Regions from separate parts of the Homo sapiens genome. Here all the other regions are linked to region 1. Evidence: fine-mapped expression QTL. A gene starts in region 1. Each other region holds a variant in brackets. All regions are shown on one strand. Distances are from middle to middle.

The links. PIP is the estimated chance that this variant, and not a neighbour inherited with it, causes the effect.
Region 2: its variant is the best candidate, but not a certain one, in a credible set for the expression of UBR2 in tibial nerve (GTEx, PIP 0.65).
Region 3: its variant is the best candidate, but not a certain one, in a credible set for the expression of UBR2 in whole blood (INTERVAL, PIP 0.57).

What each region holds. Positions count from the first base shown.
Region 1 is chr6:42,560,260-42,568,444 of GRCh38, reverse strand. It overlaps UBR2 (ubiquitin protein ligase E3 component n-recognin 2), which reads right to left and starts at 4,416. Exons shown (of 47, transcript NM_001363705.2): 1 at 4,048-4,416. The coding sequence starts at 4,125. RefSeq lists a silencer at 3,023-3,152 and enhancers at 4,185-4,704, 4,775-4,854.
Region 2 is chr6:42,692,648-42,700,832 of GRCh38, reverse strand. UBR2 (ubiquitin protein ligase E3 component n-recognin 2) reads right to left here. Exons shown (of 47, transcript NM_001363705.2): 47 at 7,328-8,185. It overlaps PRPH2 (peripherin 2), which reads left to right. Exons shown (of 3, transcript NM_000322.5): 3 at 2,326-4,235. The coding sequence ends at 2,538. Among named protein-coding and RNA genes, the nearest start is that of PRPH2, 26 kb to the left of the region's middle. The variant A/G (reference allele first, on the strand shown) is at 5,022.
Region 3 is chr6:42,594,286-42,602,470 of GRCh38, reverse strand. It overlaps UBR2 (ubiquitin protein ligase E3 component n-recognin 2), which reads right to left. Exons shown (of 47, transcript NM_001363705.2): 4 at 8,167-8,185. Among named protein-coding and RNA genes, the nearest start is that of UBR2, 34 kb to the right of the region's middle. The variant G/A (reference allele first, on the strand shown) is at 3,481.

The DNA of each region.
Region 1 (8,185 bases):
CATGGATAAATATTTAAAACATTATCTAAGAGAAAGAAGTCAGCCACAAATGACAATATGTTGAATTCCATTTATACGAAATATCCAGAATAGGCAAATCTACACAGACAAAAATTAGTAGTTGATTAGACCTCAGGAGTTTAGGTGTGAAAGGGAAGTGACTGCCAATAGGTACAGGATTTCTTTTTTGGGGTGATAAAAATGTCCCAAAATTGATCATAGTGATGATTGCATGAATCTGAATATACTAAAAACCACTGAATTTAACTGTACAGTATGTGAGTTATATCTCAATAAAACGGTTTAAAAAATGTACAGCAAAAAGATAACCAATACAGACCTAAAACTCTACATAAAACTTAACAAATTCATTATTTATTAAAACAAAATTTTTTTTGAAGACAGGGTCTCACTGTATCACCCAAGATGGAGTACAGTGGCATGATCATAGCTCACTGTAACTTCTAACACCTGGGCTCAAGCGATCCTCCCTGCTTAGCCTTCTGAGTAGCTAGGACTGCAAGTTCATGCCACCACACCCAGCTTATTTATTTTATTTTATTTTTTTTTAGTAGAGACAGGGTATAGCTAATGTTGCCCAGGCTGGTCTCAAACTCTTAGACTTAAGCAGTCCTCCCACCTCAGCCTCCCAAATAGCTGGGATTACTGGCATGAGCCAGTGCTCCCAACCTGTATTTCTTTTATATTCAGGGAAAAAGATGGGGTCCCGCTCTGTCACCCAGGCTGGAGTGCAGTGGCGCGATCTCGGCTCACTGCAACCCCAGCCTCCTGGGTTCAAGCAACTCTCCTGCCTCAGCCTCCCGAATAGCTGGGATTACAGGGGTGCACCACCATGCCCGGTTAATTTTTGTATTTTTAGTAGAGACAGGGTTTCACCATGTTGGCCAGGATGGTCTCTATCTCTTGACCTTGTGATCTGCCCTCCTTGGCCTCCCAAAGTGCTGGGATTACAGGCAAGAGCCACCACACCCGGCATGTTTACTTTTAAAACCGTAATCACTCACTGGAACATACTATAACCATATGTAGTATAGAAAGTAAACAGAGCCAAGAAGTGTTGGGAAAGTCATACTTATGGAGTCAATTCTAACAAGAAAAGAGAAGAATGAGAAGAGAGGGCCACTGTAATATCCTAAACTTACAAATATTAAAGAGTCAGCTTAGATACTTTTCTTTGTGAGGCATACTAGCTGGAATGGATGGGATCACAAAAAGTTCTTCCTCCTTATAACAGGAATAAGAAAAGCGGTGTGTAAATGAAATGTGGAAAGGTTGACACTAGTGCTCATTAGGTGATTTTTAAATGGAAGTGATCCTAACAAATTACCAATGACAGAGGTCTAAAGCCTACAATCACTGTTTTCTCTACTTGTTTCTCTTCCCTAAAATGTGCTTTCAACCTAAGAAAAAACTTTATTAATTTAAATGTGTGATAAAAAAGCTGAAGCCTAAGCTGAAAAAAACAGTTTTAAATGTTAGGTGTTTTAACTTAATACAGACAGTAAAGTCCTCACAAAGTAAGGCAAGATTAAGGTTATATAGTTGAAGGAATTTTATATTTTAATATTGGTTTTTGAGGTAGGAGGATCTCTTGAGCCTAGGAGGTCAAGGCTGCAGTGAGCTATGATAATGTCACTATACTCTAGTCTGGGCAACAGTGCAAGACCCCATCTCTTACCAAAAAAAGAAAAAAAAAAACTTATTGTTCAGAAAGGCATTTAAAAGTAAACAGGGTAGGCTGTGTGCGGTGGCTCACGCCTGTAATCCCAGGACTTTGGGAGGCCAAGGCGGACGGATAACCTGAGGTCAGGAGTTCGAGACCATCCTGGCCAATGTGGTGAAACCCTGTGTCTACTAAAAATACAAAAATTAGTCAGGCGTGGTGGCGTACGCCTGTAATCCCAGCTGTAATTCGGGAGGCTGAGGCAGGAGAATCACTTGAACCCCGGAGGCGGAGGTTGCAGTAAGCCAAGATTGCGCCATTGCACTCCAGCCTGGCGACAGAGCAAGACTGTCTCAAAAAAACAAACAAAAAAAGTAAACAGGGTAAAATGTAGCTCAGATTATGATCTTCACAAACTCAAATGAAGTCCAAATTAATAATTTTTTGTTGCATTTTCCTTGATTTTTCCTTACTGCATCTGCTTGAGAATTTCACTGAACAAGAACTAGGAGCACTGGCCTCCCGCACTACTTTTATAACCAGTTTCCTCAGGAGCCTCTACAAATTGGAGAACCTCTAATCACTTGATAGTTTGCACTTTTAGAATGGGATAACGGAATTTGTACCCTGTATCACTGGACCAAGACACAAAATTCAGTGAGAGAAAAAAAATCAAAACAGTACTTTGAGGTAAGCAACAGATATCAATTAGAAGAGGCATGGAGAGCAAACAGCTGTCATTATTATTTAACAGTTTACTTGTAACACTACTTTCATTTTCTTTTTTCAAATCTCCGATAAACGAAAGGCAGAAATTCCTTGAGTTGTACAACATTAAGTAGAAAGTAAATGAAAACAGACCTAGGCTAAACAAGTAAGTAGGTTTAAAAAAACACACCAAGGCAGGGCGCAGTGGCTCACGCCTGTAATCCCAGCACTTTGGGAGGCCCAAACAGGTGGATCACCTGAGGTCGGGAGTTTGAGACCACCCTGACCAACATGGAGAAACCCCAACTCTACTAAAAATACAAAATTAGCCGGGCGTGGTGGTGCATGCCTGTAATCCCAGCTACTCGAGGGGCTGAGGCAGCAGAATCGCTTGAACCCGGGAGACTGAGGTTGCGGTGAGCTGAGATCGCGCCACTGCACTCCAGCCTGGGCATCGAAAGCGAAACTCCGTCTCAAAAACAAAAACAAACAACAACAAAACACACCCAAACAAGCAAAGATTCAGCATTTAACAACGTATTTCTTTAAAGTCTTCACCTCTACTCCTGACATTTCTTTCTACCCGGACTTAATGTCCTCACCAATTCACGCAAAATAACTACTCACTGACCAACAGCTCCACAGTGCCCCCAATCCCAAATTTTGTTCGTAGCATTCAGATTGCTGACTTTTATTCACGGGTCACTCCCTTCCTAGCAGCCTTTTTAATTGGAGGTCTTAGAGGTGGGGCCCAAGCTGTCTTGGTCCATTCATAATCATTCTCGGCAATCTCTTCTAATGGGTGTTCCTACAACTCTGCTATTTACACTAGCATATTCATATTACAGTTTTAATGCAATAGTGCGTTTGAACGGTTTTACGTTTGGAATATAACTGCTCCTACTACACTGTGACCAGTTCTCACGTTTAGCTTATACAGTATTTGTTGAAAGCTGCTCTATCAACGTTATATAACATTTGTTCTCCATCCAATTACCCCTAACTCCTAGAAAAAATATTTTTAAAATTTCCCAGACTCCACGACTACTTTCTCATACTCAGTAAACTTTCCACACATGCATCAACGTTGTCAACTAATCAAACCGGTGCAAAAAAAAAAGATAGCACTGAAACGGATAACGAAGGGTAGTGTCGTTTGCCTTCTTGGTGCCTGGGGCAGTCCCAAAAACAAAAGAGGGGCTCGGTTAGGGTGGCATGTTTAGTCGGAGGAGCACACGGCTTCGCTTGTCTCAGGAAAAGCAATTAACTAGATAAACTAGGGCGATTATACCAAAAACACAAGAAGCGTCTCTTCTCCTCTTCCAAGAGCTGATATAAAGGGCAAAGGCCCATGTGTTGGGAGACTTAATGGGAGGCTGGGGGAAAGGAGGTATGATGGAAGAGCCGTGGGTTCTCCTGGGCAGAAAGGGAAAGTAAACGTAGTTAGTGCACAGCGCAGCTCTGGCAGCTGTTGAAAATGGAAAGAGAGGGGCAGGATCGGTGGCCTCCCCGGGCTATTACCCCACAAGGCGAGGGCCGGCACAGCTGTTTCCCCAAGTCTGGGTCGGGCTGCTCCAGGACGTCCAGGAGTCGGTTCCTCCCCACAGGCGCGGCCTGCGAGGGGCAGACGCACCCGCCCGGGTTCCGGCACTCACCCCCGCAATCTCCTCGGCCGAACATTCCAGCAAGCTCCGGTCGATGGCCTGCACCTCTGGCTCTAGCTCCGACGCCATCTTCTCTCCTCCTCCTCCCCAGCGCTACCGCCGCCCGGAGAGCTGCAGCCTCACCTCGGCCCCGGCGGCCTCGACTGCCACCCCTGCCCCAGGCAATCAGTCCCGGAGCCGTCCAAGTGGCTGCAGGTGGAGCAACAGAGGGAGAGAAGGGTGACGTGAACCGGAAAGGAAGGACAGCGGCCTCCTGCGCTCCCTCCCAAGCTTAGCGCCCAAGAGTCAAGTCACTGGCTCGTCCCTGACCCAGGGAAGGACACAGAAAACCCCAGGCCTGACACTCTCGCTGGCCACTACCGCGTCCTGCACCAGGAAAGGGGCAATAACACCCAGGAGGGGAAGCGGAGCTTTCTGGGTACTGTAGTTCTGGGTGCTGTAGGTACAGCACAGCCGGGAAAAAGGTGGCGCCCTAACACGGTGCCCCTCGAATGCATTGTGGGAGTTGTAGTCCATTCTCAAGGGGCGCTGGCTTAAATGGCAGATAAGCGGGCGGGGCTTTTCTGCCCAACGAGAATCATGGGAAGACAGTCGCGGAAAGCAGCGCCCCCTGGAAAAAAGCCAAAGAGAAAGATACTGTGGGAACTGTAGTTTTATTCTCCGAATCTCGTTTGTTCATTTTTGTATCCCCAGCTTCAAGAACACTGCCTGGCACATGGTAGACCCTCAAGGACTTGCCAGTCTGGCATAGGGTAGGCACTCAAATACTTGTCAAAGGAATGAATGAATTACATTCTATTCCTGTGGTTCTATGTCCTGTCATCCATCGAACCCATATCTTTTATACGAGTAATGGAGGTGAACATTACCCACTTTTTTGAAGGTTTAAAACATGTTTTAAAAAATTTTTCAAAAACTTTAGTGATGACCACTTATAAACTTTATCACAAATCTTGCTGCAAAGGAAAAAGAGTCTATTAGGCCAATTAAAAGATTTCCTCTTGATAGAGACATTTAATTTCTACAGATAATCAGACCAAGCTTGGTGGCTCATGCCTGTAATTCCAGCACTTTGGGAGGCCGAGGGGGGCAGACTACTTGAGCCCAGGAGTTTGAGACCAGTTTGGACAACATAGCGAGACCCTCTTGATAAAAATCAAAAAATTAGCCAGGTGTGGTGGCACGCCTGTAGTCCCAGCTACTCGGGAAGCTGAGGCAGGAGGATTGCTTGAGCCCAGGCAGTTGAGGCCATCGTGAGCTGTGATCAGCCCACTGCACTCCAGCCTGCGTGACACAGCTGAGACCCTGTATCAAAAAAGAAGGAAAAAAAAAAAAAAGAAATAGGTAAACATTGTTAGACTAGCTATCAAAGAAAACTATGTTTAGTTAAAGGTAATTAGACTCTTGACTGACAGCTGGGTGACTGGGCTTCTTAGAAGTCTTCAGTCTCTAGAGTTTGTCAGAAAATTGTTTATACCTTTTGTCAAGTGTGTTAATTTATTCCCAGAAGTAGGTTGTAAATTACATATAGGGGGGAAAAGTTCTGAGCCAGACCAGGTTTAGGACATGTTTATGTTTATGTTGTTTTGGGATTTTTTTTAAACCAATACTATGATATTAACCAGTTTTTTAAAAAAGGAAATAAGAAACTGCCTGTATCCCTGTAACCTCACAATACAAGTAAGCCTTCTTATCACTTTTTAAAAGTTATATATATATATACATATAAAACATCAGAAATTCAAACTCGAAAGGAATGTTTTAAAAAAGGAAAATTGAAAACTTCCTATTCCTCTTACCCCAAGTCCCTCTCCCCAAAGAAAATCATTTTTGACACTGTCTTATGAGTCTGTCCAGAAAAAAGTATGCACATATCTGTACAGATATTTATAATGAGATATCTTGAAATATTCTTCTATGTATTTTTCTTTTTTTGCCCAACTTCCTTACACTGATCCACTCAGGACAGAGTCAACTTGGAAGAAAACTGGGATTGTCCCAGCCTAGAAGCAAAAACAACATCTCTTGAGCTGTCCTAACATAGAATTTAAGTCGTTAATAGACTGTAAAGGCAATTTCTGTTCTTAACATTATTTGCTTCCTAACATTATTTGTTTCAGGCCGAGCATTGTGGCTCACACCTGTAATACCAAAACTTTGGGAGGCCAAGATTGGAGGATAACTTGAGGCCAGGAGTTTGAGACCAGCCTGGGCAACATAGCAAGACCCCATCTCTACAAAAAAATTTAAAAATTAGCCGAACATGGTGGCCCATGTCTGTAGTCCTAGCTACTTTGGGAGGCTGAGACAGGAAAGATCACTTGAGCCTAGGAGTTCAAGCCTGTAGTGAGCTATGACTGTATCACTGAACTCTAACCTGGGTGAAAGAATGAGAGCCTGACTCAAAAAAAAATTGTTTCCCTTGTGTGTCATAATTATGAATTTGGAGATCATCTTCACTTAGCATTAGTAGCATTAGCAGTGGGACTCTCCATGTATTAATACTTTCAAAATACTTTTTCATTTGCTTCTGCAAGGCCAGACAACCTAGAAAACATCGTATACTCAGGACCAGGCACTCTAGGAGTATCCTGTATCTAGGACCAATTGTACGTCAGTTTCTAGGCTTGAAGATTCCCTAATAGTATTAATTCAGTTGTGTGCCATTTCTCTGTCTATAATTTTTGTTTTTTTGAGACAGAGTCTCACTTTGTTGTCCAGGCTGGAGTGCAATGGTGCAATCTTGACTCACTGCAACCTCTGCCTCCCGGATTCAAGCGATTCTCCTACCTCAGCCTCCTAGGTAGCTGGGATTAGATGCGTTGGTGGTATAGTGGTGAGCATAGTTACCTTCTAAGTAGCTGGGATTATAGGCACGTACCATCATGCCTGACTAATTTTTGTATTTTTAGTAGAGACAGGGTTTCACCATGTTGGTCAGGCTGGTCTCAAACTCCTGACCTCAGGTGTTCCACCCACCTCAGCCTCCCAAAGTGCTGGGATTACAGGTGTGAACCACAGTGCCCGGCCTGTCTATGAATTTTTAAGGAGAGTTCTTTTTCCTACTCAGAGTCAAGGTAAAGAGCTTCTTTGTCATTTTTGTATGCCAGTTGGTGGGTTTTTTGTCTAGTCTACCCTTTCACTGATACGACATTCCTTTGAAAGCCCTGGCTTTATGTAGAGGATCTCAGTTGCAATTCCAATGTTTCTTTGACCCAGGGTCTTGTTTTCTGTTCCCATGGGGGCATTAAGAGCTAAGCCCCAACTTCCAGTTAAATGTGGCAGATTGAATACCTCATGACAGTAAAGGGAGAAAAAAAGAAAAGAAGAGAGGATGACAGCACCAAAATTTGGTGGAAAGCAAGTGGTTGAGAAGTAACTAAGAGAATGCTGAAACCTCCGCTAGCAGTAGAGACACTGAGTCAAGCTAATTAATATGCAGTACCCTGAAAGACTTAAAAATTTGAGGCACCATGTAACTCTGAAAGTGGGTGAAGACAATGCTAAAAGCAAGCTTATTGTTTGAAAGTCTGTATAGCAAGAAGTTAGATCTCACTTCCTACTCTGGAAGAAGACTAGAGCTTTATCCTCTAGAGTGACTACACTTGAGGGCCTTTTGACTGGGAGACACCAGACACAGCTGAGGACAGGGATACCGCACTGCATTCAAGAGAGATGAATCAAAGTCTACATAGTGAACAGGGATAACCTAGCTTATTTCCCCATTTGGCTCTGAGAACCTTAGTGGCCAGGCTTATACCTCCCAGGCAAGAGTTTGGGAGGGTCTTCTCCAGAGGGGTAGATTATCTCACCACCAAAAAAATCTGTAGAGGTCATGCCTGTAATCCCAGCACTTTGGGAGGCCGAGGCGGGTGGATCACCTGAGGTCAAGAGTTCAAGACCAGCCTGGCCAACATGATGAAACCCTGTCTCTACTAAAAATACAAAAAAAGCTGGGCATGGTGGTGGGCACCTGTAATCCCAGCTACTCGGGAGATTGAAGCATGAGAGTCGCTTGAATCCAGGAGGTGGAGGTTGCAGTGAGCCGAGATTGTGCCACTACACTCCAGCCTGGGTAACAAGAGTGAAACTCCATCTCAAAAAAAAAAAAAAAATTCTGTAGAGGATA
Region 2 (8,185 bases), 130 kb before region 1:
GAGGTCTGATGGGCCAAGGGTGGCTGAGCATAATGTTAGGAGTCTGATCTTGGCTGTGCCTGCCTAGGCTTCACAATCCAGTCAGGAGATGATGTCTAATTTATGAGCCAAAGGGAGGATCACTACCAAGTGCAAAACTCACAGTGCAGAGAGCCTCCTTCAGGAAAGCAGGAGGGGATCAGAGTGGACGCGTTCACATCAAGAGGACTTCATGGAGGAGGTGACTTTTTCTGCTGTAAAAATATTTATTCAACTTCCAGTTGACAATAGCAGTAACATAAATCTAAAACTCTATCAGTTATTATTATCTACTGCCATAATTATAAAATGTCCCAGAGCATTCATTCAAAAGAGATTTACTGAGGCCCTCCCCCTACCTGGTACTGTTCTAGGTGCTGGGATTCTGAGTGAGCCAGATGAGTCAGGGCCATCCCTGCCCTCAGGGAGCAGCTTCATCCTCTTGTAGAGTTTGCTATGCCATACAAAGAAGTGGAGGAGAGCAAGCCGGGAATTTGTACAGAAACAAGTGGCTAACGGAATATACGGAATATATTATAGAAAAATGAAAACAGGGTGTGGTGGCTCACGCCTGTAATCCCAGCACTTTGGGAGGCTGAGGCGGGCAGATCACCTGAGGTCAGGAGTTTGAGACCAGCCTGGCCAACATGGCGAAACCTTGTCTCTACAAAAAATATAAAAATTAGCCAGGCGTGGTGCCAAGTTTTTGACGCCTGTAATCCCAGCTACTCGGGAGGCTGAGGTAGGAGACTTGCTTGAACCCGGGAGGCGGAGATTGCAGTGAGCCAAGATCGTGCCACTGCACTCCAGCCTGGGTGACAGAGCGAGACTCCATCTCAAAAAAAAAAAAAAGTGAAAACAATAAGCTAATTATCAGCTACAGCTGACTCTTCTGCTCTTCTGTTGGTCCTTACTGTGCACTAGGTACAGTGGTGGTGTTTGCTGGAGTGCAGTGGTGGAGTCATGGCTCACTGCAGCCTCCATCTCTGGGGCTCATGAGATCCTCCCATCTTGGCTACCCAAGTACCCGGGTAGCTGGGACTACAGGCACGCGCCACCACACCCGGCAATTATTTTTATTTTTATTTTTAGTAGAGATGAGGTCTCGCTATGTTGCCCAGGCTGGTCTCGAACTCCTGAGCTCAAGCAATCCTCCCTCCACCTTGGCCTCCCAAAGTGCCGGGATTACAGGCATGCACCATTGCACTTGGCCTGTGTGTTTTACACATATTAAAGTGGCACAGTATCCACACGGGGTGGGCACCACTTCATCTGAAAATCTGCAAACCGGATGAATAAAGTGAGGTTTCCTGGTCACACGGCTGGCTAAGTGCCCGGGTTTGAACCCAGGCATTTTGGCACCAAGTCTGCCACACAGTGAATGCTAGTGAACAAATCCAAATTATTTTTTACCAGCATCCATTCATCACTGTGCTCATCAAAATAATGGAAGGGCTGGGCATGGTGGCTCGCACCTGTAATCCCAGCACTTTGGGAGGTCGAGGCGGGTGGATCTTGAGGCCAGGAGTTCGAGGCCAGCTGGCAACATGGGGAAACCACATATCTACAACAATAACAACAAAAAAATACAAAAATTAGTCAGGTATGGTGGCAGGCACCTGCAACGTTAGCTATTCAAGAGGCTGATGCATGAGAATTCCTTGAACACAGGAGATAGAGTTTGTAGTGAGCTGAGACCACGCCACTGCACTCCAGCATGGGTGACAGAGTAAGACTTGTCTCAAAAAAAAAAAAAAAAAAAAAAAAGAAGTACCACACATCAGATGCAGAAAAGGAGGTGACCTCTTAATTCCACCCAAGGCAGTTACTGAACTACCCAATATGTGCCAAGCAATGGGGTGTAGAGGTGAAGGCACCCAGGAATAATGCACCTGGGATGGGGGCGACCCGAGGGGATGGGGAGGGAGGATGAGCTGCCGGGGAGCTCACCAAGGGCTGAAGATGAATTAACAGATGAACGTGGAGAGGAGCAAGGTTCTAGGCAGAGAGCATAGCAGATGGTAAAGACCTAGAGGGGAGAAAGTAGGGGGCATGGGCGAATCCGAAGCAGCCCAGGATGGCTGGAAAGGGAGGAGGAGAGGGGTCTGACATGAGGCTGGAGAAGAGTCAGGTGTGTTGAGCACTGAGGACAGGGCAGCGTGGGGCAGGCTGTCACCAACCCACACTCCACAGTGCTCAGGTTGAGTCCTCTCTGGGACCCTCAATTTGAGGCTCCTGTGGTTTCCTAATGGTCCAGCTCCCAGCGATTCTCCCAGATTGCCTCTAAATCTCCTCTCCCACCACCAGGTGACCATTACAATTGGGCTGCGCTACCTACAGACGTCGCTGGATGGTGTGTCCAACCCCGAGGAATCTGAGAGCGAGAGCCAGGGCTGGCTGCTGGAGAGGAGCGTGCCGGAGACCTGGAAGGCCTTTCTGGAGAGTGTGAAGAAGCTGGGCAAGGGCAACCAGGTGGAAGCCGAGGGCGCAGACGCAGGCCAGGCCCCAGAGGCTGGCTGAGGGCCCTGGGGCCCCTCCCCTCCCGAACACTGAGAAATAGTGCACTCCAAGAAACGTGGATCTCCCCCTCATCCAACTCCGAAAGTCTGAATCTCCCAAGGAGGGCACCATCTTACAGAGACTCTCCCTGACGGTGGAATTTAAGTTTAGGGTCCCTAAAAGCATTTGACACACAGTTGTTGAATGACTGACCCAAAATGTGAATGAAGCTAATGTGAATGTGAGTGAAGCTCCCTTCAGGCCCGCTGCCCTAGGATATGCCCTCCTGGTGACTCGGGGGCTGTCTCAGACGACTAGCCCAGGACCCATCTTTCTCACACGGATTTAGTCCCACCCTATGGCCACTGGCCGTATCTGAGGGCTGCTCCCCTTTTAGAATTTACCTCTTATGAGCTCCATGTTGCTTCACTCTATCCAAAGTGTCACTTGGTGCATAAGCACAGAAATCTGAAAAATGGCCATGTTGTCTTTTTTTTTTTTTTTTAATGCCAAGATTGACAGGTTGGCCGTTTGCTTAATGCCAGAAGTTGGGGGAAAGTTACGCTTTTCTAAGAATAATGGACTCTTAAGGCATTGAGGGCTCTAAACAGGATTCTTTAATCATGGAGCAAGAGAATTTCAAGGCAGGGGATTTTATCCCCCACCAAAAACACAGTGAAAGGCCTGCTTTTGTGTCCCATTCACATGCCCTCGGTCACTGAGTCTGGAGTGAACCACGGGTTGAGGAAGTCAGGCTGTTGGCGTGTCCCAGCACCACACCACCCCTAAAGTGCCAGGTGATCTCCTGTGGCTCATCGGTGGAAGCAGTGGGGTAGGCTGCTGCCCTGCTGTGGAAGAGGAGCAACAATCAGACATGAGTCCACCCTTTGGAGACCAGGCCTCAGCTCTTGGTGGGCCCAGGGACACCCACACAGGTGGCCATCACAGCCCCATGGACAACACTAATTGTCCACAGCAAAGGGCAAGGAATCCTCTGGGAGCTTCTTCCGTTTCTTCCCCCCAGATACCCATCTTGAAAAACACTATTTCTGGAATGCTTCTGCATCAAAGGAGATTCTTTGAGATAGCCCATCTTCCTGAGCTAGCAAATACAGGAGTTTTCACTTTCTTTAGGAAAGAGAAGCTTTCAGGGGAAGGAGAGAATGATTTTGCTGACTTCCCAAGCCCTGGTGACCAGACCAAGGCAGGGCCCAGCATAATTCCTCCAGTTGGATGAACATTCAAGAGAGCTCGTTCCTACCTGGCTGGAGACCGAGGCCAGAAGGCAAAAACCAGAAAGGGAACAGTCCATAACTTACCTCTGCTTCTGACCGATGGTGTTTGGGAATAGGTTACTTTGGACTGAGTTTGGGTTCTCTGCTGTCCTAAGAACTTCAGTGTAGAGAAAATAAGACTTCTGGTGCTGCTGGGGTATGTTCTGGGCTTAATTCCCCCAAGCAGAAGACCAGATCCAAGATGTTTGGACACCCTGTCAGACGTTGGTCCCAAGTTTAATTAGATTTCTGAATCTCGTTGAGGCCAAGGAATGATCCATACTGAAAAAATGCTGAGCCAGCCATCTTTGGCAAAGGTCCCTGAGCTCTTGCTATCTCTCAAGAGTGCTGAGAACCACGGTGAAAGTGCTGCTCTAGGCCCACAAGTGTAACTATGCTGTTAACAGCTGTCAATAGATAATTAAAATTCATACTGTATGAAAATCACTTTTGTTAAATGACTGTTTAAGCCCATTCAACAACATATATCAGAATCCCCTACTACCGCTAGTATTTGCCAAAAAAGAAAAGAAACCCACCCTAAGGGAAGCATTGGTAACAATCGTTGTTATAAACATGGCTTGGGTATCACATCTCTCCATCTTGCCATCTCTTACCTGTAAGAACGGTGACTATTACAACAGTGACTATTATTATATCCAAATAATCTCAGCATTTGCTGGAGTTTGAACCAGAGCTGAATACATGGAATTTTAATGTAGAAATTTAGGCAAAACTCCAAGCCATTTTTTCTTCTCCTCTGGCCAAAACGTTATTTCCTCAAACAGGGAAATATGAGTCTCTATGGGGCCAGGTTATAGGAGCAAATGTGAACAACCTGAGAATCTGAAGGTTGTTGAGAGGACCAAGAGTGCATTGACTCTACAATAAATCTCACTCATTGGTTCGGAGCAGGCTTAGGGTTAACTGCATTTTAACAGGTCTTCTCAGGTAGCCGGTAGTTGCGAGAGAAACCTGGACCATCCCTTTTGGTCACCTACCAGTGCCCAGGAAGTCTCTGCTATCAGGTTTTTGCTTGTGTGTAACTTCAGTCTTTCCTTGGGCTGGTGTAAATCCTTTTCTCCTGAGGGACCCAGCCTACTTTTTTTTTTTTTTTTTCAAATATGGAGTTTTGCTCTTGTTGCCCAGGCTGGAGTGCAATGGCATGATCTCAGCTCACTGCAACCTCCGCCTCCTGGGTTCAAGTGATTCTCCTGCCTCAGCCTCCCT[A/G]CTAGCTGGGATTACAGGCGTTTGCCACCACGCCCGGCTAATTTTTGTATTTTTATTAGAGATGAGATTTCACCATGTTGGCCAGGCTGGTCTCGAACTCCTGTCCTTAGGTGATCTGCCCGCCTTGGCCTCCCAAAGTGCTGGGATTATAGGAGTGAGCCACCTGGCCCAGCTAGCTTTTAAAGTTCTGCCAGCATAGCCCCGGGATGGGGTGGGGGTAGACAGGGCCTTAGGACTTTCATTTTTAAAATGCTCACTCCACGGTGAAGAAACAGGTGATGACTATCCTGAATATTTGGGAAGCTGTGTCCTAGAATTTTTGGCCTCAGTTCCAGAACCCACAGCTTCTTTACAACATGCTTCAAGCCTGGGACTGAGCTGCCAGTAAATAAACCCCTAGTAACCTTAATATGGGTTAATAAGATTAGGTGCCCGCTCTGCACGCTCCCCTGCCCCTCCTCGTCCGGGCACCTGTTACACTAGGCCAGCATGTTTGCAGCTTAGCCAGGGAAAATCGTGGACCAAGACAGGGCTTTTCATCCACGACTGGCTAAAAAGATGGCTCTCAATGACAGCGCAGGCAGGCAGCACCACTGTGTTAGGAAGAGAAAAGTGTCTGTCCAATACTATGAAAGTCCAGGGAAGAGACAAGTGCCTTCCCAGGTCACAATGGATAGATTGGCTGGAAGGGGAAAAACATGTCAGTTCTTAACTCCTGACAGCATTTTATCCTGTCCATCACAGAGGACTGTAAACAGCAAAGTTACAGATTAGAGAATGCTGAGCTCTCAGGATGGCATCAAATGGAGGATTAAGATGTAAGGGACAACTTCTAGCTATTTACCTGAGGGAAGTGAAAATTCAGGTTTGTACAAAAACCCATCCATGAATGTTTGTAGCAGTAATCACCAAAACAATCACCCAAACTCACCCAAATGCCCTTCATCTGGCAACTGCCCAGAAGTCTGTACAACGGAATGCTACTCAGCAATCCAAAGGAACAGGGAGGACCCGAATGCATTCTTCTTTAGTGAGAAGCCAGACTCAAAATGCTACATATGATACAATTCCATTTATATAACATTCGGGAAGAGACAAAACAAAGGGAGAGAAAAACACTGGTAGCTGAAAGCCAGGATGAGGCAAGAAGCTGACTACAAAGGGGACTTTTGGGGAAGATGGAATTGTTCTATTTCTCGATTGTGGTTGTTTAACTGTATGCATTTGTTAAAATGTATAAAACTGTACACTAAAAAGAGTTAATCTGTTTGTAAAATATACCTCAATAAATGTGACTTAAAAAACAAGAGTAGGAACAGGCCAGGCACAGTGGTTCACACCTATAATCCTAGCATTTGGGAGGCTGAGGCGGGAGAATCATTTGAGCCCAAGGGTTCAAGACCAGCCTGGGCAACATAGCGCGGCTGTATCTACAAAAAAAATACAAAAATTAGCCAGGTGTGGTGGCATGTGCCTCTATAGTACCAGCTACTGGGAGGCTGAGGTGGGAGGATTGCTCGAGCCCAGAAGGTTGAGGCTGCAGTGAACCAAGGCTGTGCCACTGCACTCCAGCCTGTGGGACAAAGCAAGACCCTGTCTCTTTAAAAAAACCAAACCAAACCACCACCACACCAAAATCAAGAGTAGGAAGACAGGGAGGAGCATGTCAGAAGGGGCTTCATGAGTTCCTGGAACTAAAGACAAGAGTGGTGAAGGCAGTAGGCTGGGAGCAGTGTTACTGACCAGGAGGCAGGGTGAGTGCAATGGAAACCTTGCTGTTTTAGTTTGATGCTCTCAAGAGGATTTCAAAAAAAACAGAATTCTCATGGGCAATGACTCCCCTAGGAAGACAGTGTAGCTGCCTTTCTATGTCTCTCTCTCAAAAGCAGGAAGTGGTCATAAAAAAAAGAAAAAAAAAACCTCCAACAGCCCTGAAAAACCAGCCAGCACACTAGGGGAGTGTGTAAGGACAAGGACCTTGAGATCACCAGGTAAGGATGAACAAGAGTTTAAACCCAGACACAGGTCTTGGAGTGCCCTGTTTCCCAGTGATTTGAGTTCCAAAATGGTCCACAAAGGTCACACGCTGTCATGGCTAATGAATATGAAACTTAATCAGCTGAAATGATGATCACACTTTCTCTGAGAAGGTCAAGATAGTTTGGCTAGTGGCCATAATAATATAACCCTCTTAAATTTAAAGCTAATACAGATATCCCACTATATTTGTAGCAAGGTGACACGGGCACCTTGCTGTGGCAGGTAAATGTGTAAAATGAAACAGAAAGATATATGCTAACCAAAAGTAATGCCAACACCTAAAGCATTTATTTGGATATCTTTAAACTTTTTACATATGATACATTCCAAATTTTACAAGTTGTCCACAGATATTAAAGTTATAGCCAATTTATTAAACAGATATGATTTTCCCTGATATGGAAAGCGTATGTTATATAAACATTTCTACAATAAACATAAAACATGCGGAACAAATCATAAAACTAACATGATTTGTAAGGTAGGAAAGACAACTAGCTTAACACCAGAAAATAAAAAGGTGTGTATGTTGCAATTTCATGTAAATTCATCTTCTCCCAGGCTCTGTGATATTCTCAGAGAATGAAATCCAGAGACAACCTTTGCTAACTCCAGGCTCCTAGGAAGTCGGACCGGAAAGCTGGAGTATTGTTATGATTTGGTGAAAATGTTTATAATCCACTTGTACAGAGAGAAACCTGGTCTTATTATTTTAAATTTTAGCTTGGTGAACATATGAAAAAAAGCCAAAAGAAGCTTACCTTAAAAGCTAAAGAAACTGGATGTGACAGAGGCCAAAATAAACATGAATTATGCCACCTACAGCCCAAACAACCAGATCTTATGAATGAAGGCCAGAAAAAGGGGGAGAGAGGTGGACTCAAATGTGAATTTTCTTTCTATTGGTCCTCCTCTCAGCTGGGTGAGTCAGTCCCACGCAAGAATGGCGACGGTCATCCTCCTGTCAAGAGGGGGCGGTTCTTTCACACACTACCTTGGAGAGGAATGTGGCTTCTACATCCTCACTTCTTTTAGCTTCAGTTCCAGATTTCTGACCTTCTTCCTGTGATACTGTGGAGCATGCCTAGTTGACTGGTAGCTGAGTGGAACAAAACTTGTAGATG
Region 3 (8,185 bases), 34 kb before region 1:
CAGCACTTTGTGAGGCTGATGCAGGCGGATCGCGAGGTCAGGAGATTGAAACCATCCTGGCTGACACAGTGAAACCCCGTCTCTACTAAAAATACAAAAAATTAGCCGGGCGTGGTGGAGGGCGCCTGTAGTCCCTGCTACTTGGGAGGCTGAGGCAGGAGAATGGCATGAACCCAGGAGGCGGAGCTTGCAGTGAGTGGAGATTGTGCACCACTGCACTCCAGCCTGAGTGACAGAGCGAGACTCTGTCTCAAAAAGAAAAGAAAAGAAGAAAAAAAAAAAAGGGCCAGGCATGGTGGCTTGGCCGGGCACGGTGGCTCACGCCTGTAATCCCAACACTTTGGGAGGCCGAGGTGGATGGATCATCTGAGGTCAGGAGTTCAAGACCAGCCTGGCCAATGTGGTGAAACCTCATCTCTACTAAAAATATAAAAGTTAGTTGAGTGTGGTGGTGGTGCCTGTAATCCCAGCTACTTAGGAGGCTGAGGCAGGAGAATCGCTTGAACCCAGGAGACGGAGGTTGCAGGGAACCGAGATTGTGCCACTGTACTCCAGCCTGGGCAACAGAGCAAAACTCCATCAAAAAAAAAAAAAAGAAAAAAAAAAGAATGGAGAAAAAAGGACAAAGATGCCTAAAACAGATGGGTCTAGAGCTTGAAGAAGGTAAATTTCCTTTTCTCAGTAAGAAGCAGATTTTTCAAATGTTTATAGCACCTTTTACCTATAACTCTTCTCATACAGGCTGCTTTATATGTCCCATTGAGGTTTTTTTTTTTTTTTTTGAGCTAGAGTTTCGCTCTTGTCGCCCAGGCTGGAGTGCAATGGCACAATCTCGGCTCACTGTAACGTCCGCCTCCCGGGTTCAAGCGATTCTCCTGCCTCAGCCTCCTGAGTAGCTGGGATTCCAGGCATGTGCCACCATGCCTGGCTAATTTTGTATTTTTAGTAGAGACAGGGTTTCTCCATATTGGTCAGGCTGGTCTCAAACCCCTGACTTCAGGTGATCCACCTGCCTTGGCCTCCCAAAATGCTGGGATTACAGGTGTGAGCAGCCGCGCCCAGCGAAGTTTTTTATTTATTGTTTCTGCTAGCAAGGTTTATTACTATTTGTTATGGAGGCTTTAGAAATAACTGACATGGTGAAATCACTTGTATACAGAAAGAATCAGAGCTGGTCCCTCCTGGGGATTCAAACAAGAGTAGGTATTAATAATAATATGAACCTCATACTACACCAAAATAGAAAGTGGAATCAAAATTCAGCTTTCCTGGTACTATTATCTCACCAAACAGTCATTCCATTTCTTACAGTTATAGCCCATAAGACAAAAACATTTAAGGATTGAAGAGTTTGATAAACAGGGTTTATAAAACTTTAATGGTCCTGGAACAGAGACAACCACCAATTCTTGAGAATCCTAACCAACAGTTTCCAAACTCTATTTTACAAAAATCCCAGGGCATGGTAGAGATGTCCTATTTGAATTAAAATGTCAGTTCCAAAATATATTCTAGGCCGAACATGGTGGCTCATGCCTATAATCCCAGCACTTTGCAAGGCCGAGGTGGGAGGACTGCTTGAGCCCAGGAGTTTGAGACCAGCCTGGGCAATACAGTGAGACCTCATCTCTACAAGAAAAATTTAAAAATTAGCAGAGAGTAGTGGTGCATGCTTGGGAAGCTGAGGTGGGAGGACTGCTTGAGCCTGACAGGTGGAGGCTAAAGTGAGCCATGATCTTGCCACTACACTTCTCCAAGCCTGGGCAACAGAAAAAATACACTCTAAAATGTGTTACATTCCATATTGGAACACCAACTGATAATTTTTTTTTTTTTTTTTTTTTTGCTACAGTAACCCAGTTTGAGGCAGGCCTAGACAGATTCTTCTGCCATCTCCGTACACAAATTTTAACTTCTAAGAAATGTGTCACTCATCATAAAGAATTATTTCTGCATTGAAAAGATGCTACAGCTGTACAAGTCTACGAATGTTATGATGGTAAATTAAATGTCAGGAAAGACTAAGACATTCCTGCTCAGATTGCCCTTTTCATAGCATAAATCAGTTGGAACAATAAATGACATCCTATTGTATTATCTATTATTACTAATAATTTTAGCTCTTTGATTATATTTATGCTACAGAATGTTCATCTGTTGGTGAGTCTGCTTTGATTTACTATTCTTTCAAGCTAGAAGAATGCAAGGCATGTTGTTAAAAAGGTTGTTAGTGGTTATTTTAGAGGGCAGTAGGAATTATGGAGAACTTTATCTTTTATGCAGTATACTCCTGTAATATTTGAATTTGTAAAATGCAAGCATGTATTACAATAAAGATTTTAACTGTTATCATATGCAATGTAGGTATGAATGAGGATTTTCTCCATACTGCCCAACTAAAAATATAGAAATAAACTAGAGGCTGCAGTCATCAAAACAACCTCAATTATCTCATAAACTGACTTTCTAACAATAACACACGTTTCAATTTACAAAAAATAAATCTATTATTAATACCACTTTAATGTGCTCTATTATTTTTTAAAATTAGATTTTCATTTAAAAAAACAATTCTAGCTAGGCGTGGTGGCTCACACTTGTAATCCCAGCACTTTCAGAGGCAGAGGCAGAATTGCTTGACCCCAGGAGTTTGAGATCAGCCTAGCAGGGTATGTGCCTGTGGTCGCAGCTACTGGGGAGGCTGAAGGGGGAGAAATCGCTTGAGTCCATGTGGTCAAGGCTGCAGTGAGCCATGATTGCACCACTCTACTTCAGCCTGGGAAACAGAGCAAGACCTCATCTCAACAAAACAAAACAAAACAAAAACAAAAGCATAACAACAACAACAACAAAAAAAACCCCCAAACAAAACCCCAAACCATGCAATAATTCTGCTAAAAATGCTTTTTAAAACCAGTATAAGGTACTGTGTTAAGAGCATCATTACTGGAGTCTATACTACATAGGTTTAAATCCCAGTCCCATAATTTCCTATGTGGGACACTTTGGGCAAGTTTTTTTTATCTTTCTAAAACTCAAGTTTCTCTCTTTTTTCTTTTCTTTAAGAGGGTCTCTCTCATCCAGGCTCATACCTCACTGTAACCTCAAACTCCTGGGCTCAAAGTGATCCTCCACCTCAGCCTAAAACTCAATTATTTATAAAATATTGGTAACAGCATTATCTATCTTATGAGGCTGTTTTGGGAATTAAATGAGATAGACCAAATAGTCAGCATTAACATCTAGTTATTAATAATTACTGATCTGAATTCAAACAGATGGGAGCAGCATTTGTGAGTGAAATTTCAGATTACAAAAATCTTCACTTAGGTTGTTGTTCAGTTAATATTTCTTATTTAATTAAATCTAATTCCAAATAGGATTTACAGCAACTTAAGAATACATCTACATCCCAGCTACTTGGGAGGCTGAGACAGGATGACTCTGCTTGAGTTCAGGAGCTGAAGACCAGCCTGGGCA[G/A]CACAGTAATAAAAACCATGTCTCTAAAAATAAAATAAAATAATTTTTTTAAAGAATGCACCTAATAGAGTGGTATATTAAAAAAGATGTAAAAAGCAGGTAAATGAAAATAAAGATAGGAAAATAAACCATAGTCAAGGTAACATCTATATATAGATAGAGATCACATAAATTTTCACACAGCTACTACAGGCAGGCTGTTTCCAACCATCTGGCTCTTTTTCCAAAAGTCTCAACAAAAGGAAACACAATCAGTTATGAGATTCACACCAGGAGAAACATAACATTTCTTAATATAGAGACCTAAGAGAAATTCCTTATGGACTCCTATAAAGACTAACAAAGGAGATACCACATATTATGTGTTGGTTCTCAAATGGGAGAGGTACATCTCACCACCCTCCCTACTCACTCCCACACCCCAAGGGGCCATTTGCAAACCTAGCTGGGCATTTTTTTCTGTCACTGTAGTGGAAGATGCTAGTGACATCTAGGGAGTGGGAACTGAGTAGGCGAAACACAATGCTTTCAGTAGCCTACACCTAGGGTCAACAAACTTTTTCTGTAAAGGAGATAGTACTTTAGTCTTAGCAGGCTATAGGGTCTCTGCTGCAACTACTCAATTTTGTTTGTAATGGGAAAACAACTACAAATACTACGTTAAAATTTAAGCATGACTGTGCTTCAATAACATTTTATTTATGGACACTAAAATTTGGATTTCATATAATTTTCTCATGTCACAAAATACAATTCTGTTGATTTTTTTCAACTATTTAAAAACAGACACAAGAACAGGTTGTGGACAAGATTTGGCTTGTAGGAGTCAGAGCTTGCTGAACCCTGTCCTATACAATGAAGAAATATCTCACCCCCAAATGCAAAGAGATGAGAAGACCTGTGGAACTCCTGCATAGCATTTCTATATCACCAGGTTTCCCCCAGCTTTTTCGGAAGATGTAGGCTAAATGTATGACAAAAAAATTATGTTCAACAGTTACTGGGAACAGGTATGTTAAACAAAATGCTATCTTAATACCCTTGAAGACTTCATTTCTCTTTTTTTTTTTGGTTTTTGAGATGGAGTTTCGTTCTTGTCCAGGCTGGAGTGCAATGGCGCAATCTTGGCTCACCACAACTTCTGCCTCTCGGGTTCAAGCGATTCTCTTGCCTCAGCCTCCCAAGTAGCTGGGATTACAGGCATGTGCCACCACGCCCGGCTAATTTTGTATTTTTAGTAGAGACGGGGTTTCTCCATGTTCGAGACCAAGCTGGTCTCGAACTCCTGACCTCAGGTGATCTGCCTGCCTCAGCCTCCCAAAGTGCTGGGATTACAGGTGTCAGCCACCACGCCTGGCTGACTTCATTTCTCTTAAACTTTTTTTTTTTTTTGGAGACAGAGTCTCACTCTGTCGCCCAAGGCTGGAGGGCAGTGGTACAATCATGGCTCACTGCATCCTCAATCTCCCCTGGCTTTGGTGATCCCCTTACCTCAGCCTCCTGAATAGCCGGGACTACAGGTGCACGCCACCATACCTGGCTAATTTTTGTAATTTTTGTATAGACGGGGATTTGCCATGTTGCCCAGGCTTGTCTTGAACTCCTGGGGTCAAGTGATCTGCCCACCTCGACCTCCCATAGGGCTGGGATTACAGCATGAGTCACCGCGCCTGGCCTTAATTAAACTCTTAAATATAAATTAAATGGTAGAGTTTGGAAGGCTTTATTCTTTGTCTAGTTCCAGGAGTATACATTCTCCAGGCAGGATTGTATGACTTTTGGCTAGGCAGGGGAGCTTGCTGGTGTCTTCTTAAAATTCAGGAAATTAAGTAGAGCTTGGACTGTTGGATAGCCATCCCACTAATGTATGAGGATAAAGCCAACAGAGCAAATGTAGGCAGATTCAAAACTTTTCATTAGAAAATTATTTTAAGTCTACTCTAACACAGGGATAAAAAAGGTAACAGAAGTCCTAAAGTATCTTTTCCAAATAAATGACATGACATTTACAGAACATAAAATTAACCATTTTAAAGTGAACAACTCAGTGGTACTTGGTACATTTATTATAACGTGCAACTACTACAATCTAGTTCCAAAACATTTCCATCACTCCAAAGTAAAACCCCTTACCTACTAAGCCATTTCTCTCCATTTTCCTCTTCCCCAGCCCCTGGCAACTACCAATCTGTTTTTTCTCTCTACAGATTTACCTATTCTGAATATTTCATATAAAAGGAATCATACAATATGTGACCTTTTGAGTCTAGCGTCTTTCACTTAATATGTTTTAGAGGTTCATGCATGTTGTAGCATGTATCAGTTCTTCATTCCTTTTTATGGACGAAAAATATTCCATTGTATGTATATTATCACAATTTGTTTATCCATTCATTCACTGATGGACATTTGGGCTGTTTCTACCTTTTGACTATTGTGAACAACATTGCTACAACATGTGTGTGCATGTACTTGCTCAACTTCGGTTTTCAGTTCTTTTGGGTATATATCTAGGTGTGAAATATACGGTAATGTTTAATATTTTGAGGAACAGCCAAACTGTTTTCCACAGCACTGAATCATTTTATATTTCCACTAGCAATATACAAGGGTTCTAATTTCTCTATATCCTTGTCAATACTTGTTATTACTTTAATAGTCATCTTACTGAGGGTGAAGCAGTATCTCACTGTGGTTTTGATTTTGCATTTCCCTAATGACTAATGATGTTCAGCATCTTTTCATGTGTTTGTTGATTATTCATATATCTTCTCTGTAAAAATGTCTATTCAAGTCTTTTGCCCATTTTTAAATTGGGTTATCTTTTTACTTGCTGAGTTGTAAGATATAAACTCTGCATACTAGATCCTTTTTGGATACATGGCTTGGATATACACACATATACTTTCTCCTGCAGTCCTAAAGTTTTATACCAGTGGTTTTTAACCTTTTTCTAAAGCACAATTCTTTTTTTTCAAATATATCTTTATTTGTCCTGTATTTCTACATACAGAACCCCAATCAACTATATAAAAATGGAGCTTCTCCAATAGAAGTGGAAAAATCTGGAACCTTGACCACTTGGCATCTTACTGTAGCAAATTACAGAACCCTTTCACAAAGCAAATGAAAAACAAAACATGTTTTCCATAGCACTGAATCATTTTGTATAAATTTTGATTTGTACATCAAAAGCTTTGGTCATTCTGATAAAATATATTTGAGACCTGTAGGATATGGGTACCAGGAAGAACTTTTTTTTTTTTTTTTTTAAAGACAGGGTCATGATCTTGGCTTGCTGCAACCTCTGCCTCCTATGGCTCAAGCGGATCCCACTTCAGCACCCCCAACCCAAGTGGCTGGGACCACAGGCACGTGCCACAACACCCAACTAATTTTTGTATTTTTTGTAGGGATGGGGTTTTGCCATTTGCCCAGGCTGGTCTCAAACTCCTGGGTTAAAGTGATCCACCCGCCTTGGCTTCCCAAAGTATTGGTATTATAGGTATGAGCCACCTTGCCTGGCTGAGGAAGGACTATTGATGTCCACTTGCCCCAAATCTATATCAGGCCTACTAACAATGTAGACGTACTTGAGTGTACCTATTCCCCTGCCATTTAAAAATAAAATCTGAAAGAAGGATCTTGAACTATACAACAAATTGTCATAAAATGTAGCAGAAGAGGGACTGCCACAGGTTGGCTAACGGATACAAGAACAAAGCTAGATAGAAAGAATGAGTTCTAATGTTCTACAGCACTATAGCATGACTATAATTAACAATTTACTGTATATTTTCAAATAGCTAGAAGAGCGGATGGTGAAGGTTTCCAAAACCAAATAATGTTAAATGCTTGAGGTGATGGATATGTTAATTACCCTGATTTGCTCATTACACATTGTATATATGTATCAAAATATCACACTGTGCCCCATAAATATCACGCTGTACCCCATAAATATGTACAATTATTGTCAATTAAAAATAATAAAACATAATCTATTGTAGCATACCATTGAAAGATTTAATCATTGTATAATTACAGTTAAGTGAGTTATTAGAAATATATGGAAAGTTTTTGAAGTTTTAAAAAAAGCAGCAGAGATTTAAGCATTTATTTTGTGGGACTCTACTATTCCATTACAAATCCATTTAAGAAAAATAATGCAGGATCAACAATTTGAAAAACACAGTAAGCAGTGGGAATTATTTGTACTGAGCTATCATCACTACACATGGTCCCATCACATAACCAATGATAATGGAAACCAGGAGATGATGATTGGGATTGGCTGTCATGTATGGTAACAGAAAAGAAAGCTATCTGGCCCCAAAAGTCTTTGTTATAATAAAGATATACAAAACTCAACTTGGTTAACTGGTCTACACATATGGGAAAAATAATCCTCTCAACCATAGGTTAGTACTCAAATAAACTTCAAGTATGCTTAAAACAAAACCCCAACCAAATAAAAAATCAGAATTAAATGAAATTTCCCAAATTTCAACTGTGTACTATTAGCAACCGTACAGCATCCACAAAATGCAAAGAACTTTCAAAGTAAACTAGTCACTGTCAATAGTGGAAGTACTATTTGCTTATCCATTTCTCACATCATCTAATGACTATTTCTCAAAATATTTCAAACTTGGGTTAAAAACAACTTTGTGAAAATGTTTTTACCTCTTCTTCCTCAATTTCA